Linked DNA regions of Homo sapiens. The protein of the gene in region 2 interacts with the protein of the main gene of each other region in a pairwise test. Each region holds a gene or a part of one and is shown on either strand. Other genes may lie near its edges.

Region 1 (7,616 bases), on a different chromosome or scaffold from region 2:
CCCCAGGTCCCGGTGCAGAGGGAGTGGCCTGATGGTGACTGGGCGGAGGCCTCTGCCCCTCACAGGACGTCGTCAAAGTCCAGCAGCTTCGAGTGCTGGCGGCTCTTCCACAGGCGATACAACCGGAAGTCAAAGTACGTCTCGATCATCTGCTTCCCTGGGCGGAGCGGGGGCAGGAGGCTCAGGCCTGGCCGGCCCTGGGGATCCCACCCCACCGTGGCCCCGCAGTGGCTGCAGAGCTTCGGCCCAGCCTGGGTAACTCACCTTGGGCTGAGAGCTCCAGGGGTGACTCGAAGGTGACCCTATAAGGAGTCATGAGGGTCCTGAGGTTCTGGAACAGCTGGAGGAAGCGGGGTGCCATGAGTCCGAGGCAGAGAGATGGGGAAGGAGGAGCGGGGAGGAGATGGGGAGCAGGGCCCACCCTCTTTTTTCAGACCCCCCAAACCTGGCTGGGCTCAGGCATAAAGGATTTCTAGGGGAATGCCCGGGGGAAGGAAAAAAAATGCCAGGAAACATGGAAGGCTCTGCCCTGTCTGTCCACGTCGGGGGTTTCCAGAGGTCTGGGGTGGGGCTTGGGGGTCACTGTACCTTCTCTCCATTGGGGTTCCCCAGAATGTAGCAGCCCATGATGTGGATGACGTTCGGCTCTGGGTTCACTTTGCTCATCAGGCGGCTCAGCCGCTTCCAGAAGCTGGTGGAGAGGGGTGGGTCACCCAGTGGCAGGGGACAGGCACCCCACTCCACAGAGCGGACCGTGGAGGAGGGGCTGTGGGGGAGGGACATGCCAGGGCCTGGACTCTGCCTCCAGCCCTCCCCGCGCCCAGGGCACCCGGCTTCTCACTGAATCATGTCCTCTTCCTTCTCCACTTTGGCAAAGGTGGCCACCTTGTTCTTGAGGAGATAGAGGTGTCCAGGACCTCCCTGTAAGAAGCTGTGGTCAGGCATCTGCTCCTCCTTCCTCCCCCTCTCCGACACACATGCACCCACGCACATGCGTGGGAGGTAGTTTTGGTCTTCATCCCCCGGCCACGCTTCTTCCCCTTGATCTCCCCCACCACACGTCTTTCCCTTGATCTCCCCCACCACACGCCTCTTCCCTTTGATCTCCCCCCCACGCCTCTTCCCCTTGATCTCCCCCACCACATGCCTCTTCCCTTTGATCTCCCCCACCACACGCCTCTTCCCTTTGATCTCCCCCACCACACACCTCTTCCCTTTGATCTCCCCCACCACACGCCTCTTCCCCTTGATCTCCCCCACCACACGCCTCTTCCCTTTGATCTCCCCCACCACACGCCTCTTCCCTTTGATCTCCCCCACCACACGCCTCTTCCCTTTGATTTCCCCCACCACACGCCTCTTCCCCTTGATCTTCCCCCGCCTCTTCCTCTTGATCTCCCCCCCTCGCCTCTTCCTCTTAATTCCCCCCAATGCCTCTTCCCCTTGATCTCCCCCACCACACGCTCTTCTCCTTGATCTCCCCCCAATGCCTCTTCCCCTTGACCTGCCCGCCACGCCTCTTCCTTTTGATCTCCCCCCCACACCTCTTCCCCTTGATCTCCCCCCCACGCCTCTTCCCCTTGATCTCCCCCTCCACACGCCTCTTCCCCTTGATCTTCCCCTGCCCCTCGTCTCTTCCCCTTGATCTCCCCTGCCACGTCTCTTCCCCTTGATCTCCCCCACCACGTCTCTTCCCCTTGATCTCCCCTCCACGTCTCTTCCCCTTGATCTCCCCCTCCACACGCCTCTTCCCCTTGATCTTCCCCTGCCACACGTCTCTTCCCCTTGATCTCCCGCGCCACACGCCTCTTCCCCTTGTTCTGCCCTCCACGCCTCTTCCCCTTGGTCTTCCCCACCACACGCCTCTTCCCCTTGGTCTCCCCCGCCACGTCTCTTCCCCTTGGTCTTCCTTGGCCACACGCCTCTTCCCCTTGATCTCCCCACCATGCCTCTTCCCCTTGATCTCCCCCTCCACACGCCTCTTCCCCTTGATCTTCCCCTGCCCCTCGTCTCTTCCCCTTGATCTCCCCCGCCACGTCTCTTCCCCTTGATCTCCCCCGCCACGTCTCTTCCCCTTGATCTCCCGCGCCACACGCCTCTTCCCCTTGTTCTGCCCTCCACGCCTCTTCCCCTTGGTCTTCCCCACCACACGCCTCTTCCCCTTGGTCTCCCCCGCCACGTCTCTTCCCCTTGGTCTTCCTTGGCCACACGCCTCTTCCCCTTGATCTCCCCACCATGCCTCTTCCCCTTGATCTCCCCCTCCACACGCCTCTTCCCCTTGATCTTCCCCTGCCCCTCGTCTCTTCCCCTTGATCTCCCCCGCCACGTCTCTTCCCCTTGATCTCCCCCGCCACGTCTCTTCCCCTTGATCTCCCCCGCCACACGCCTCTTCCCCTTGGTCTTCCCCCGCCACGTCTCTTCTCCTTGATCTACCCCCCAAACACCTCTTCCCCTTGGTCTCCCCCAGCCACACGCCCCTTCCCCTTCATTTCCCCCCCGCCACACGCCTCTTCTCCTTGATCTTTCCCCCTCAATGTCTACACCTCTTCTCCTTGGTCTTCCCCAACCCCAGCCTCTTCCCCTTGGTCTCCCCCAGCCACACCTCTTCCCCTTGGTCTCCCCCAGCCACACGCCTCTTCCCCTTCGTTTCCCCCCGCCACACGCCTCTTCTCCTTGATCTTTCCCCCTCAACATCTACGCCTCTTCTCCTTGGTCTTCCCCAACCCCAGCCTCTTCCCCTTGGTCTCCCCCAGCCACACCTCTTCCCCTTGGTCTCCCCCTCAAACACCTCTTCCCCTTGGTCTTCCCACCCCAGCCTCTTCCCCTTGGTCTCCCCCAGCCACACCTCTTCCCCTTGGTCTCCACCCCCACGCCTCTTCCCCTTGGTCTCCCCCACAAACACCTCTTCCCCTTGGTCTCCCCACCCCAACCTCTTCCCCTTGGTCTCCCCCAACTTGACTTCTTCCCCTTGGTCTTCCCCTGCCCCACCACGATTCTTCTCCTGGTCAGGAGACGAGCACTGAGCCCCACCTGGCAGAAAATCAGCATTTTCCAGATCTTGGCTCCCTTGTGGTAGACGTTCAGCTTCCTCTCTATCTCCTCTGTGGGAGAGCGGGTGTGAGTGCTGCGGCCCCCACCCCAGCCCCAGGGGCACCCCCACCTGTGTCTGCCCCTCCCAGGCCTGGAACCAGCAGAGAGAAGGCCAATGAGGCACATACCAAGGATGTCCTCGAAGGTTGCGTGCTCATGGTCCTGGGGACAGACACAGGCCACAAGGCCACATCAAGGCTGCGTCAGAGCCAGCAGCGCCACAGCACCCTGGGGACCTGGGGTGCCGGCGCTGGCCCAGGGTGGGGCCGCAAGAGGGCATCTGTTGGGGGCAGGCCCGGGGCGGGACTCACGTAGAGGATGGGGATGATGGAGGGGTCATCCCGGCGGATGATAGTGGGGATGTACTCAGCCTTGGGCACCTTGGAGGAAATGAGCTGCGGAGACAAAGAGCTGCTCAGGGGCCCCAGGCCCATCCAAAAGCCAAGGGGCTGTGGGAGCCCCCATGAGGCTACCTTCTGGCTGCCAGGCAGCCCAAGGGTATAGCCCTGTGAGACACCCTCCCCCAGGCAGCTGGAGAAGGCTGCGTGGTCCCAGGCAGAGCTGGCTGGACTCGGGTTGGGGCGGAGTCCTGCTCGGGGTGTAGAGGAGCACTGCCCGGGCTGGGCCTCACCATGACCTTTGGTGGCACGAAGCCTTCGGTGTCGCAGGCCACAGCCTCCAGGCCCTTCTCAGTGTCCCAGTCCAGGTCCTCGAAGGCCTCGTCCAGCGTGCAGTGGGAGCTCTGCAGGTCACTGCCTGGGAAGCAAGAGGGTCACCAGGACAGCAGGCCCGGCAGCACCTCCTATCCTGGCCATGGCCCCAAGGCCCACAGGGCCCGAAAGCCCCATCCCGGAGGGTCCTCCAAGCAAGTGGGAGGACCATACAGAGGTCGCCGCCAGCCCGGCAGGACAGGCCTGTGGACACCACTGGGCAGCGGCCTGATGTGGGAAGGGAGACCCTGGTGCGAGGCCGGTGGAAGGCGCGTGCAGGCATCAGCTCCAGCCAAGTCCGCCGGGCGCCTGGGAGGGAGTGGGGGCGGGCACCGCAGCCCCCTGCCCCTGAGGGCCTCTTGCGAGTGGCGGTGGGCACGGCCCTACAGGCGCCCCCGGCCAGCACTGCCGCGGCCGTTGTTAGCCCCGCCTTTGCGATCGGAGATGCTGAGGGCGTCCCCATCTCACAAACAGGTAAACCAAGATTCAGGAGTGCAAAAGCGCAGCCCAGCGGCCCTGGCAGGGGACCCCCAGCAGGGGTCTGGGGTCTAGGGGAGGCTCTGGGGAAGGTGGGCGGGCCTGTGCGGGGCACCTACTGTCTCGGGAGTCGTGGGAAGTGTCGGCTTTCATGGGGGTGGGGTCGCTCCAGGACCGGCTGAAGCTCCGCTCGCGCCGCTCAGCGAACGCTGCAGAGAGCAAAACCCGCATTAGCGAGCGGGTGGGGCGGGGCCTCGGGAGTCTCAGACCCCAGGCGAGGGGACCACAGGGGCCCTGGGCAGAGGAGGAAGCTAATGTGGGTGGGGTCTAAGGCACATGAAGCAGACACGGACCAGAGGCTCGGTTGGTTCAGGGGCAGGATCTGAGAACACTGGGGCAGGGCCAGAGGCGGAGTCTGGGAAGGGAGGAGCCTGGGCCGGGCTGGGGGCGTGGCTGGGAGGGGAGGAGCCTGGGCCGGGCTGGGGGCGTGGCTGGGAGGGGAGGAGCCTGGGCCGGGCTGGGGGCGTGGCTGGGAGGGGAGGAGCCTGGGCCGGGCTGGGGGCGTGGCTGGGAGGGGAGGAGCCTGGGCCGGGCTGGGGGCGTGGCTGGGAGGGGAGGAGCCTGGGCCGGGCTGGGGAAGTGGCTGGAAGGGGAGGAGCCTGAGGCAGGGCCCGATTGGGGTTGGGGCGGGGGTCGTTCTTATCGCAGCTAGCAGCAAGCAAAGCCCCAACCAGCCAAGCGCAACGCCGCCCCCCCACCCCCGCCGCACGGGGTCTTACTCTGGGCCTTCACCCTCCGGCTGCCGACCATGCGCAGGTGTTTGCGGAAGTTCCTGGGGGAGGAAGCCAGGGGCTGAAGAGGGCCGTGAGAGGGTGACGGCAGCCCCTGCCCACCTAGCCCCCGTCGGGTCATGGCTCTACTCTCACCCCTTCGGTGTGGGAAGCCAGTGCTCTCCCTGGCTCCTGGCACCACCTCCCACCCAAAGGCAAATCCCACCCAGTGCTCTTCCCGCGACAGCCTTCCAGGGCTCCCCTTCAACTCCAGAACAAAGGTGCAGTGCCTGGCGCTCTGGATCAAGTCTCCTCCCGAGCTGCATTCCCAGGCTCTGACCTTCCGTCCTCGCCCGGGACTTACGCCCTGAGCCTCCACGCCCATGTGGCAGAGGATCCAGCCTGCCTGCGCTGCAGCAGAGCGGGGCTCCTGTCTGCACCACCCCATGGCGGGCTGGGGGCCTGCAGGAGCCCCCTCTCCTGCTCTGTGTCCTTGAGCCACCTCAGGGGCAGGTCCTCTCCTCCACCAAACTTTGGACCCTGCCAAGGCCCAACATCCAAAACGGGCAAAAAAGCTTCCCAGACACATCTGTGTGATTGGAGTGGGGGAGGGGGGCCTTGCTGCTGGCCCCAGCCCAGACAGAGACACGTGCCCTCGGAGTGCAGGACTGAGGGTGAGATGCTTTCCTGCAGCCCGGGCCACATGGCCTCTCCTGCCTGCCACGTCCCCAGAGCAGGGCCAGGCCAGTGGTCGCCACCACCCTTCCCCCATCAGGTCTGCCAGGGCCGAGGGGGCCCAGGCCAGGCCAGCACAGACCAGAGATGGACCCTGGTGGCGAGTGGCTGGCAGGCCCTACCTCTGGATTACAGACGCGGAATCATTCTCCCGTTTCCGGCGCTTCCTCTCCGCGTAGCCCCTGAACACCCTGGGAAACCACCGCGAGTCAGCACTGCCCTTGGCCGGAGGCAGGAGGGACACAGACGTCGGGACAGTGGTGCGAGCAGAGGGCCCAGCAGGGCGTCTGGGGCACGGGGCCCGGCAGAGGAGTCCCAGCCTGCCTCACCTGTCGAGGCCCAGCTCCCAGCAGGCCCTGCTGCGACCTCGGTGCCCGCTGGGAGCCAGGCCCGCAGAGAGCGGCACTCCCTCAAGACCCAGGTCCCTGGCCTGCCCAAACCTATTTGGGGTGGGAGGGTCTCCCCAGGGACAACAGCTGTGCCCTTAGGCACCAAGTCATACAGGTACTTACGAGATGCTGAAGCCAGGGCCAGAAGGGATGGCGTGAGAGAGAAGACACAGTGAGCTCAACCCCGGGCCTCCCCTCAGCCCCCACCCGGTCCCTACAGTTCCCTTCTTGTCACTGACCCAATAGGTCCCTCACAGGTAACCCAGCCACCAGCAGGATGCTGGCTACACTGCTGGCCAGCCCTGAATGGGCAACGGAAGCTGATGTCACTGCAGCCCATGCCACAAGGACTGGTTGCTGAGACCAGGCAGCCTGAGGCTGGGTGTGGGGTGGACTCCCCCGGGCAGGACACTTCTTTGGTGTGGGGACCAATGCAGCAAAGGGAACTTCCCTGGAAGGAATCCCAGAACAGAAAAGCCAAATGTATGTCAAGACAGAGAGGAGCAGGTCCCTGCGGGGACCCTGAAACTGTGATGACCTATGGCACGTATGAAACAGAAGTAGGCTTCTATTTGGGGTTTGAGGGAGGGCAGACACAGGCTGAGGAGAGTGGATAGGAGCAGGAGAACCTGCCACACCCCACACCCCACTGAGAGCTCATCAGCTGCAGCCCTGGGCCAGGTCCCCTGACTGTGTGTGTGTGGGGGGGGGGGCTGGGCACCAGCCATGGGAGGGGAAGAGCAGTCAGCCCTGGCCTCCCTGGCAGGCCTGGCACAGCATAGGCACGTGGGTCTGTTCAGAAGCAGCCCCCCTGGTAGGCCCAGAGACTGGGAAAAAGTGCTGTTTCCTGAGCAGCAGAAAGAGACCACCCAACCCTGACCCCAAGTCGTGGGCACAAGACTCACGCTTGCATAGTTGTGGTTGCTGTCTGGAAGCTGAAAAGATTTTCCTTGGGGAACCAGGTACGAATAGGGATGTCGTCTAAGAGAGACAAAAAGGAGCGGTGGCTGGGTGAAGTAGGGGTTCCTGAAGCCTCTCCCTCCCTGTTGGGAAGCAGATGCTTCTGGGTCCAGGGGTCAGCAGAAGCTGGCAGCCAGGGCGGGTGGGGGGAGGGTGGCATCCCCACACGGGCACAGAGGGCAGTGCTCGAATGTCTGCTGCTCACTCACCAAGACCACGCTCTTGGTAACTTGACGCTTTGATTTTTTTGGCTTAACTTTCCCTTTGGCCACCCAAAGTTTGAGAAACATTCCTTTGAAAGCACAGTCTGTCTCCAGGAGGCCCAGGAAAACAATGCGTCTGTTTCCCTTGGGCAGAAGAGGCTCTGAGGCCTTCTCTGCAGCCCCCATGCTCTAGCTGGAGGCCCTCACCGAGGCTAGAGACCACCTTGCTGAGGGCTGTCCCCTTCCGAGGGCCCCCACAGCCTTTCCCTGATGCCCAAGTGT
Region 2 (8,330 bases):
AATGGTTCCCATGCTTTAGCATGCATCAGAATCACACGATAGGCTTGCTGACCTTAGTAAATACAGACTGCCAGCCCCACCTCCAGAGTTTCTGATTCACTAGGCCTGGGGTGGGGCCCGAGAATCTGTACACAAGGTCTTGCTCTGTCACCCAGGCTGGAGTGCAGTGGCATGATCACAGCCCACTGCAGCTTCCACCTCCTGGGCTCAAATGATCCTCCTGCCTCAGCCTCCCGAGTAGCTGGGACTAAAGGCGTGTGCCACCACACCTGGCTAATTTTTTAAAAGTTTTAATAGAGACAAGGTCTTGCTGTGTTGTTCAAGCTGGAGAATCTATATTTTCAACAGCTTCCCAGGTGGTGCCAATGCTGCTGCTCTGGGACCACACTTGGAGAACCACTGCTTGAGATGTCGTGTGAGATCGTGTGCAGGCTTTTTGACTACTGGACTTCCTGCAGTGTCTTAAGTGGAGTTAATTTTTGTCTCTACCATAAAACTCTAATCTTAAAGCCATTACTACTTGGACTTTCAGGTAGGAGTCTATCTGTGCAAAATACTACTTAGAAAACCGATTGAAATAACAGTTCAGTTTGTCAGTTTCAAATTAGACTATATTATATATATATATGTATATATAAATTGTGGTAAAAAACACATAACATTGAATTTACGCTCTTAATCATTTTTAAGCATACAGTTCAGTAGTGCTAAGTAGATTCACAATTTTGTGCAGCACATCTCTATGGAAGATATATTTTAACCCCTAAGATTCCTACAAAAACACTTAGCACTTTGCTTTAATTACAAGACCAAACTGTAAGTTACTTATTCAGCCTTTGATTTATGAATATGAAACACTGTTTTCCTGAAGCCTTTACTAGATTCTAAACCATGCATGGTGATGATATATGTAAACAGAGTATGGTGGAAAACCTTAGTAATGGAAACCTTATGGGAATATAATCAGGTACATGTTAAGTAGACTTTCAGAACTTACCATTAGTCTTCCTACCTCGTTCCAGATTATGTCTTACGTACTTTTTGTAGGAAAGACATAAAATATAGAAAAAGTTACCCGTGTTACCTTTTGAAACAACTTGTTTGAGTACATGGCCTAGGCTTTCCTGTTAGATGATTATTTTTCTTCCTTTTAGAAAAAATAAAGGGTCTTTTAAAATTTTAAATTTTTTCACTAACTTGTTTTGCTGTTTAATTAAAAAGTCCCTTTTTCTGCTAGTGACTTTAAGTGTTTTTACAAGTTCTTCTATATTTCAACTATGAGAAAATGAGAAAATATCAGATTCTGGGGTCATTGAATTCAGCTTTTTTCTTTTTTAGTATTAAAAACAGAAGTCTTTCCAATTGTCATATTGGCAGAAGGGACATTTCTGGTTAAAATCTGGAGAGCTGGTTAAAATATTTGAAGAAATGTTCTTTCCTGAAGTTAGAGCTAAATAGTGACTGAGTCATACAAAACAATTCCATAGTCACTTCTGTTGTGAAGATGGTTTTTAATTGCAAAATGACAATGACTCTCTCCTTTGAGTCCTCTGCTCGACTAGGCCTGACCTTGGGCTTCCCTCTCTGTCCTTGTATCTGACTACCCTTAATATTTGATCACCTGGCCTGCCTTCAGCTAGAATCCTATCAAGGCAATTTAGCCAGAAGCTCCTTATCCTGGATATTTCCTTGGTAATTTTCCATCCACTGGCCCCCCCCATCCTGCTCTATGGTCATAAACCCCCACTTATCCTTTCTGGAGTTGAGCCCAATCTCTCTCCCCATGGCAAGAACACGTTTCAGTGGTCCCTGTATGGGTCGCCATGGCCCTCCTGGAGTAAGTTGCCTTACCATCCTTGGCAAGTGTCCTGACTCAGCTTTTTCTTTAGCAAAAGGAAAGACAGTACTGTATATTGGAGTGAGGACGATCAGCTCTTCTCTGTACTCTGTTGCCTTGAATGCATTTTGATTTTGACAACTCTGGGGTGATTTTGATGTGAAACTTTATGGCCCAGGAAATTTAGTCCTTTCTTGAAAGTTGTTTAGAAATGCACGGTTGCCTCATTAACACAAATTTAAGTGATGAACACAAATGTAAATGCTTTTGAAATATAAATGAGTGCTGACAAGGCAATTTGTCAGTGGGTTTTCCTAACAGACTGCTAAGTAAGTGTTGGTCTTGTTGAGGGATTTTACATACACAAATGAAGCCTGTCCAAGGCCAGCTAACACTATTTTGCAGTCCTCTTTGTTTTCCTAAAGCCTGGCACAGAAGTACTGAATCCATGCTGAAGGCCTTATTGGGTTTGCTTGGTGACTTGTGGGTCTTCCAGGCATAACTTGGCATTGCTTCCATTTATTATGGCTAGTCCTGCAGAGTCCTGTGCTGAGGCTGCAGGAGGGATAGAAGGCTTGGCCCTTGTTTTCTGAGAGCTTGCCTTCTGAAATGTGGCCTGACTTAAGGGGAAGAAACCCCACCTGCATGTGTCCTCCCTCAAGCGACGGTCCCTATAAGGCTCTACCGGAGTCCTCTCCCCTCCCTCCCTCCCCTCCCACCATCAGTCCCATTAAGTGGGCTCTGCGGATGGCCACTTACTTTGAGTAAACTGGGGAATTCAGCCTGAATCAATAGCTTCAGTTCATCCTTTGACAACTGGTCTGGATCACCTTCTTTGGCTGCATATTTTTCAAAAATCCTCTTCAGTTCCTCAGGAGACTTTTTAGTACTCATTCTGGTGTCTTATAAATTGGGAAGAAAATAAACTTACCAAAAAGCTGAAGTACAGTTTTGTGCTGAGGGTTGTCTGCAGGATTTTAGTGCCATTGGGCCATTTCCTTGGCATAAATGGGGAAGAATAAGGAAAAGAGAATGTCGGGGTCGGAATGGCACCAGTAACTACTAACATGTTTAAAAAATAAGCATCTTAGGCCAGGCACGGTAGCTCATGCCTGTAATCCCAGCACTTTGGGAGGCCAAGGAGGGTGGATCACTTGAAGTCAGGAGTTCGAGACCATGGAAGCCTGGCCAACATGGTGAGACCCTGTCTCTATACAAAAATTAGCCAGGCGTGGTGGTGCGTGCCTATAGTCCCATCTACTTGGAAGACCGAGGCAGGAGAATCGCTTGAACCCGGGAGGCGGAGGTTGCAGTGAGTGCGATGCCACTGCACTCCAGCCTGGGTGACAGAGCGAGCCTCCGCTGCAAAAAAAAAAAAAAAAAAAAAAAGACATCTTAGATAGTATGTTAAATGTCTGTTCTTAGAGTACATCTGTTAGGAGATGGTCCCTGGAGCCAAACATTTTTATTAGTAATTAATGACATTCTACACTTTTTATGTACCTGATCTGCACTCTGCAGGCTGTGGTCTTGAAGAATACTTGACCACAGCTTCTAGCTTCTAAGTTACAGGGAATATCTCCAGATGGCATAAACTCACCTTCTCTCCAGACCATTATCTTTCACACCATTCTAAAAGGAAGCAGAGTATTAATGCAAACAGAAGGAGCTCTAGGTAGTACCAAAATCACACTAACCTGGTTGCCCAATAGTGAAACAGCTAGAAGAATCAAAGAGGAGTTTGAAGAGCTGAGCAGAATCATGACACTTTTATAGTCTTTACGGGCACGCCACCCTGATTATGAAAATTTCCTTTTGTTGGCCATTTAAGGGTAATTATTAATGGTTTTTGAAACTCAGGCTTAAGACTGCATGAACCCCATAATTAAGGGCAAGATCCAGTAAAGGTCCATCTCGACAGTTGCTTCATGGTTCAGAGTCGTAAGCTTGGATTTTTTTCCCCCTGAGATTATATTTTCCCTCCAATGTAGAATTATATTTGCTCACAGTTCACATTTCATAAAGCTTAGATATAGAGGATTCTTTTCAATTTAGTTGCATATTTAGGCTTTAAAAAATAACTTTCTTCATATCCAGAAAAAATAAATGCTGCCCTGTGCGGTAGCTCATGCCTGTAATCCCAGCACTTTGGGAGGCCGAGGCAGGAGGATTGCTTGAGGTGAGGAGTTTGATACCAGCCTGGTCAACACAGCAAGACATTTCTACTGAAAAATTTAAAAAATCAGCCAGGTGTGATGGTACATGCCTGTAGTCCCAGCTACTGTAGAGGCTGAGGTGGGAGGATTCCTTAAGCCTGGGAGGTTGAGGCAACAGTGAGCCATGATTGTGCCACTGCACTCCAGCCTGGGTGACAGAGTGAGATCCTGTCTGTAAAAAAGAAAAAATGCTGTCATAGAAGGACAATATTACATAGTTTAAAAAATTACGGTATGGCCATTGAAGTCCTTCTGATGTCTTTACATATTAGCAGCTTAAATATTTGAATACATGAATGAATGAATGGAAGTATTGCTTCAGAAGCAGGTTTAAGAAGTGGAAAGAAGATACTCAGTAATTTGTGGTTTTATTTGGCAAATCAATATTGAGTAACATGGTCATTTTTTCAGCTCTTTCATTATTTGTTGGTCCTGTGTCTGCTTTTTATTTCTCATTATCCTTTTCCTTACCAAATATATTTCGTGATCATTCGAAAAACTTGTGAGAACACTCGACTTACTCTTGTTCAGTTGGAAATACTTCAAACTTTTTGTAACTGCCATGATTTAAAATTGCCAAGGAGATTGATTTCTACTGGAAAGAGTTCCATGAAATAAGTAGGACATTTCCAAGGGACATTGATCTAATGCTGATTGTAACTCACAGGAAGGGGTTCCAGGTGGATTTTAAGAGCACTTTACAGCTTTGAAACACTTGTACACTTCCACACTTATAGAATTTTCCCTGACTCTGCCTTATATCACCTACAAACTGAGGACTGGACTATTGGGACTGTATTTCTCCCTGATGTTTCTCAGCTCTAAAATTCTAGGGCCTTATTTACATTGGAGAACAAATGGGAAATCTAATAGAATTCCTTAAAAGCTTCCCGCCAGTCTTGAGCATTTATCATTCCATGTGTCTTTGCTGTCTTGTATATATTCTTCTTGTTTTTATTATGGATTCTTTGACTTTGCTATGCACCAATATAGAATATGTATTAACTCACTGGTTGGAGTAAAGACAGGCATTTTATTTTTAGTTATAAGATTTTACACAAAAATATTCTGATTTTGGCAATGCATTTTAATCAAGATTTTAGAAAATTGCCAGTGTTTTTACACATATGTTCTGTTTTCCTGGGAGGAAGTAGGCGTTTGTGCTTAATCATAACAAGAACTATCTTTTTTTAAACATCTTTTAAAAAATATTTCAGATCTACAGAAAAGTGGCAAGAATAGTGCAATGAACACCAGTCTGCCTTTCGACTAGATTCACTAATTGCGAACATCTCCACATTTGCTTTCTCTTTCTCTGGACAGATACTTTCCTCCACCCCTGAGTCATTTGAGAATCAATTACAAACATCCAGATGCTTCCCCCCTGAGCACCTCAGCATCTGTCTCCTAAGGACAAAGACATTCTCCTATGTAACCACAATGCCATTATCATAGCCCACGTCAAATCTCTCCAATTGTTGAATAGCATCTTAAATCATCTTTTCTCTCAAATTACCACTAGTGAGCTAAAATCAAATGGGGTGTTTATTATGTTTTGCATCTGGTTTTTTTGTTTATTTTTTTGAAGCCACTTCACTGTGTCACTCAGGTTGGAGTGCAGTGGCGTGAACACAGCTCACTGCAGCCTCAACCTCCATGGGCTCAGGTGATCCTCCTACCTCAGCCTCCCGAGTAGCTGGGACTACAGGCATGTGCCACCATGCCCGGATACATATATATATATTTTGTGTATTTCTTGTAGAAAAATACAACATGGGTTTTGCCATGTTGCCCAGGATGGTCTCCAACTCCTGGGCTCAAATGATCTGCCCGCCTCAGTCTCCCAAACTGCTGGGATTACAGGCGTGAGCCACTGCACCTGGCCTATTTTTTGCATCTGAAGAAATGATTTTAATAACTATATGTCATCTTAGTAACGATATAGGATGAAAGATAACATGTTCTATATAATACACCCATATATTACATATGACGTGTGTATGTATATATAAAAATTATCTCTAAGAAAAACTTTTGGAGCAGTATTGGTTAATAGTCTTCTAGGCTACAAATCTCTTCTTTCAAGGGACAACTTCTGATTAGAATCAGCCCAATGCGGCCGGGCACGGTGGTTCACGCCTATAATCCCAGCACTTTGGGAGGCCGAGGTGGGCGGATCACCTGAGGTCAGGAGTTCGAGACCAGCCTGACCAACATGGAGAAACCTCATCTCTACTAAAAATACAAAAATTAGCCAGGCGTGGTGGTGCATGTTTGTAATTCCAGCTACTCGGGAAACTGAGGCAGGAGAATTGCTTGAACCCGGGAGGTGGAAGTTGCGTTGAGCTGAGATCCTGCCATTACACTCCAGCCTGGGCAATAAGAGCGAAACTTTGTCTCAAAAAAAAAAAAAAAAAAAAAAAAAAAAAGAATGGGCCCAATGCTGCCTATTGTCAGAATTTATACTTGTAGCGAATGCTAGCAAAACTTGAACTTGAAAAACAGCCTGTGCGGCTTCTTAAGTTTTTACTTGCTCACTTCTACCAGTCACATCTCTTGTCTCTTATTTTTCTCTTTACCCATAGACTTAAAAGCATGAGGGTAAACTTGCACTTGGAAGCATGAAAAATCCACTAATAGATACTCTTGTGAAACATTAACTAAAAATATATGGAGACAAGTGATAATTACAGGGTGTGTTCACAAGAGTGCGTTTTGAAACCAGAGAAGGGGGGAAACGACAGGCACAAGGGTGGTAATGGGAAAATGGAGAGGCAAAGGTTATTTATCACCTCACTGTTCAATTGTTTGATCTTTGGACAGGCTTAATTTTTCCTAGGAAAGCCAAGAGTAACATATTTTAAGAGCTCTGGGCACCACAGGCTTCTGTGGGTTATTCTGCTTGAAGGTGACAGCATGCAATGTCTTGAAAAGCACCTTCAGGAAGAGGGTACAGTGTTAGTACCTGGTCCCTGCAAAACAAAATGGGTGTGAAATGCTATCCATGGGTTCTTGTTATCTTTGATCCTGAAGTTTAAAAGAGACCTTGAATACTCAAATGCTGCTTTCCCAGAAAGTATAGCTTGCTTGTCACCTGACCTGGTGTCTACCTTCCCTGGACCTTCAGACAAAGTTCACTTCCAACCTTTGCCTGGGCTGTGAGGCTCACTGTCTTTTGGGTCAGCCTGTGCTCACCTTCAGCAGTTGAGTTCCCAGAGGTCTCCTGACCATAGCCTGTGCTTCTTGAGTGCGTATCTTTACTATGGGCAGTGTGCTGACCTAGGCACCCAACTCCCACGGCCTCCTTAAATCCTTGCTGCAACTTTATGAAGTGGATGCTGTTGGTCCCCCCAGTCTGTAGAGACATCCAAGGACCTGCTCAGGGTCACACTGCTGGTCAGCAGTAGAGCTGGGATTCAAGTTCAGGCCCAGCCTGCACCCTCAACCACCGTGCCACATGCCCCTCCCAGGAGAAGGGCTTCTCTGAGGACAACCATTGTATGTTAACATTAGGACCACAGGTAGTATCACACTTAAGTGTTAGGTTTACATCTGGAGGTATAAGAAGGTTCTTTTTCTGAGGTGTAAGAAAGTTCTTTTCCTGATGAAAATGATATAGGCCTTTGTCTGTTTTGCACTGCTATAACAGAGTACCTGAGACTGGCTAATTTATAAAGAAGAGAAATTTATTTCCTCACAGTTCTGGAGGGTGGCTGGGAAGTCCCAGATCAAGGTGCTGGCATCTGGTGAGGGCCTTCTTGCTGTGTCATCATGTGGTAGAAGGCATCACATGGGTGAGAGAGAGGGAAGGGGACTGAACTCATCCTTTTACCAGGAACCCATTCCCATGATAACTAACCCATTCCAATGATAATGGCATTAATCCATTCATGGGGGCAGAGCCCTTATAACTTAATTGCTTCTTAAAGATTCCACCTCTCAACACTGTTGCACTGAGGATTAAGCTTGCAACACATCAACTTTGGGGAATGCATTCAAACCATAGCAGCTTTCTTTTACTGGTGGGGAAAAAAACAAGTTTAAAAGACTGGAAAAATACATACGTACTTATGGGACTGCTCATTGATTTCCTCATTGTAGATTCCATTCTCACACTACTTGGTGACACAGCAGCGCAGGTTGGAAGCCAGAAATGGGAAATAAACTGCTTCAGGTTAGAGGCAGGACTCTGTCAGGCAGGACTGGGCATAGTGTGTACTCGGCCTCTGAGTAGGGCACCACCCCTCCCTTCCCGTCTGCTGAAGAGACTCACCTGC

The links.
Region 1: the proteins of S100G (region 2) and NSMF interact in binary tests that used the Homo sapiens proteins (3 or more experiments, as listed by UniProt).

Annotation. Positions count from the first base shown.
Region 1 is NC_000009.12:137,449,335-137,456,950, forward strand, and holds part of NSMF (NMDA receptor synaptonuclear signaling and neuronal migration factor), read right to left. Parts: intron 7,153-7,616; coding exon 7,077-7,152; intron 6,301-7,076; coding exon 6,295-6,300; intron 5,974-6,294; coding exon 5,905-5,973; intron 5,896-5,904; exon of another isoform or gene 5,753-5,895; coding exon of another isoform or gene 5,412-5,752; intron 5,110-5,411; coding exon 5,057-5,109; intron 4,487-5,056; coding exon 4,397-4,486; intron 3,847-4,396; coding exon 3,722-3,846; intron 3,486-3,721; coding exon 3,402-3,485; intron 3,253-3,401; coding exon 3,219-3,252; intron 3,102-3,218; coding exon 3,031-3,101; intron 922-3,030; coding exon 842-921; intron 753-841; exon of another isoform or gene 692-752; coding exon 589-691; intron 341-588; coding exon 265-340; intron 158-264; coding exon 60-157; 3' UTR 1-59. UniProt on the Homo sapiens protein: Couples NMDA-sensitive glutamate receptor signaling to the nucleus and triggers long-lasting changes in the cytoarchitecture of dendrites and spine synapse processes. Part of the cAMP response element-binding protein (CREB) shut-off signaling pathway.
Region 2 is NC_000023.11:16,645,408-16,653,737, reverse strand, and holds the start of S100G (protein S100-G), read right to left. Parts: upstream 3,581-8,330; 5' UTR 3,535-3,580; intron 2,836-3,534; exon of another isoform or gene 2,740-2,835; 5' UTR 2,732-2,739; coding exon 2,597-2,731; intron 533-2,596; coding exon of another isoform or gene 349-532; intron 1-348.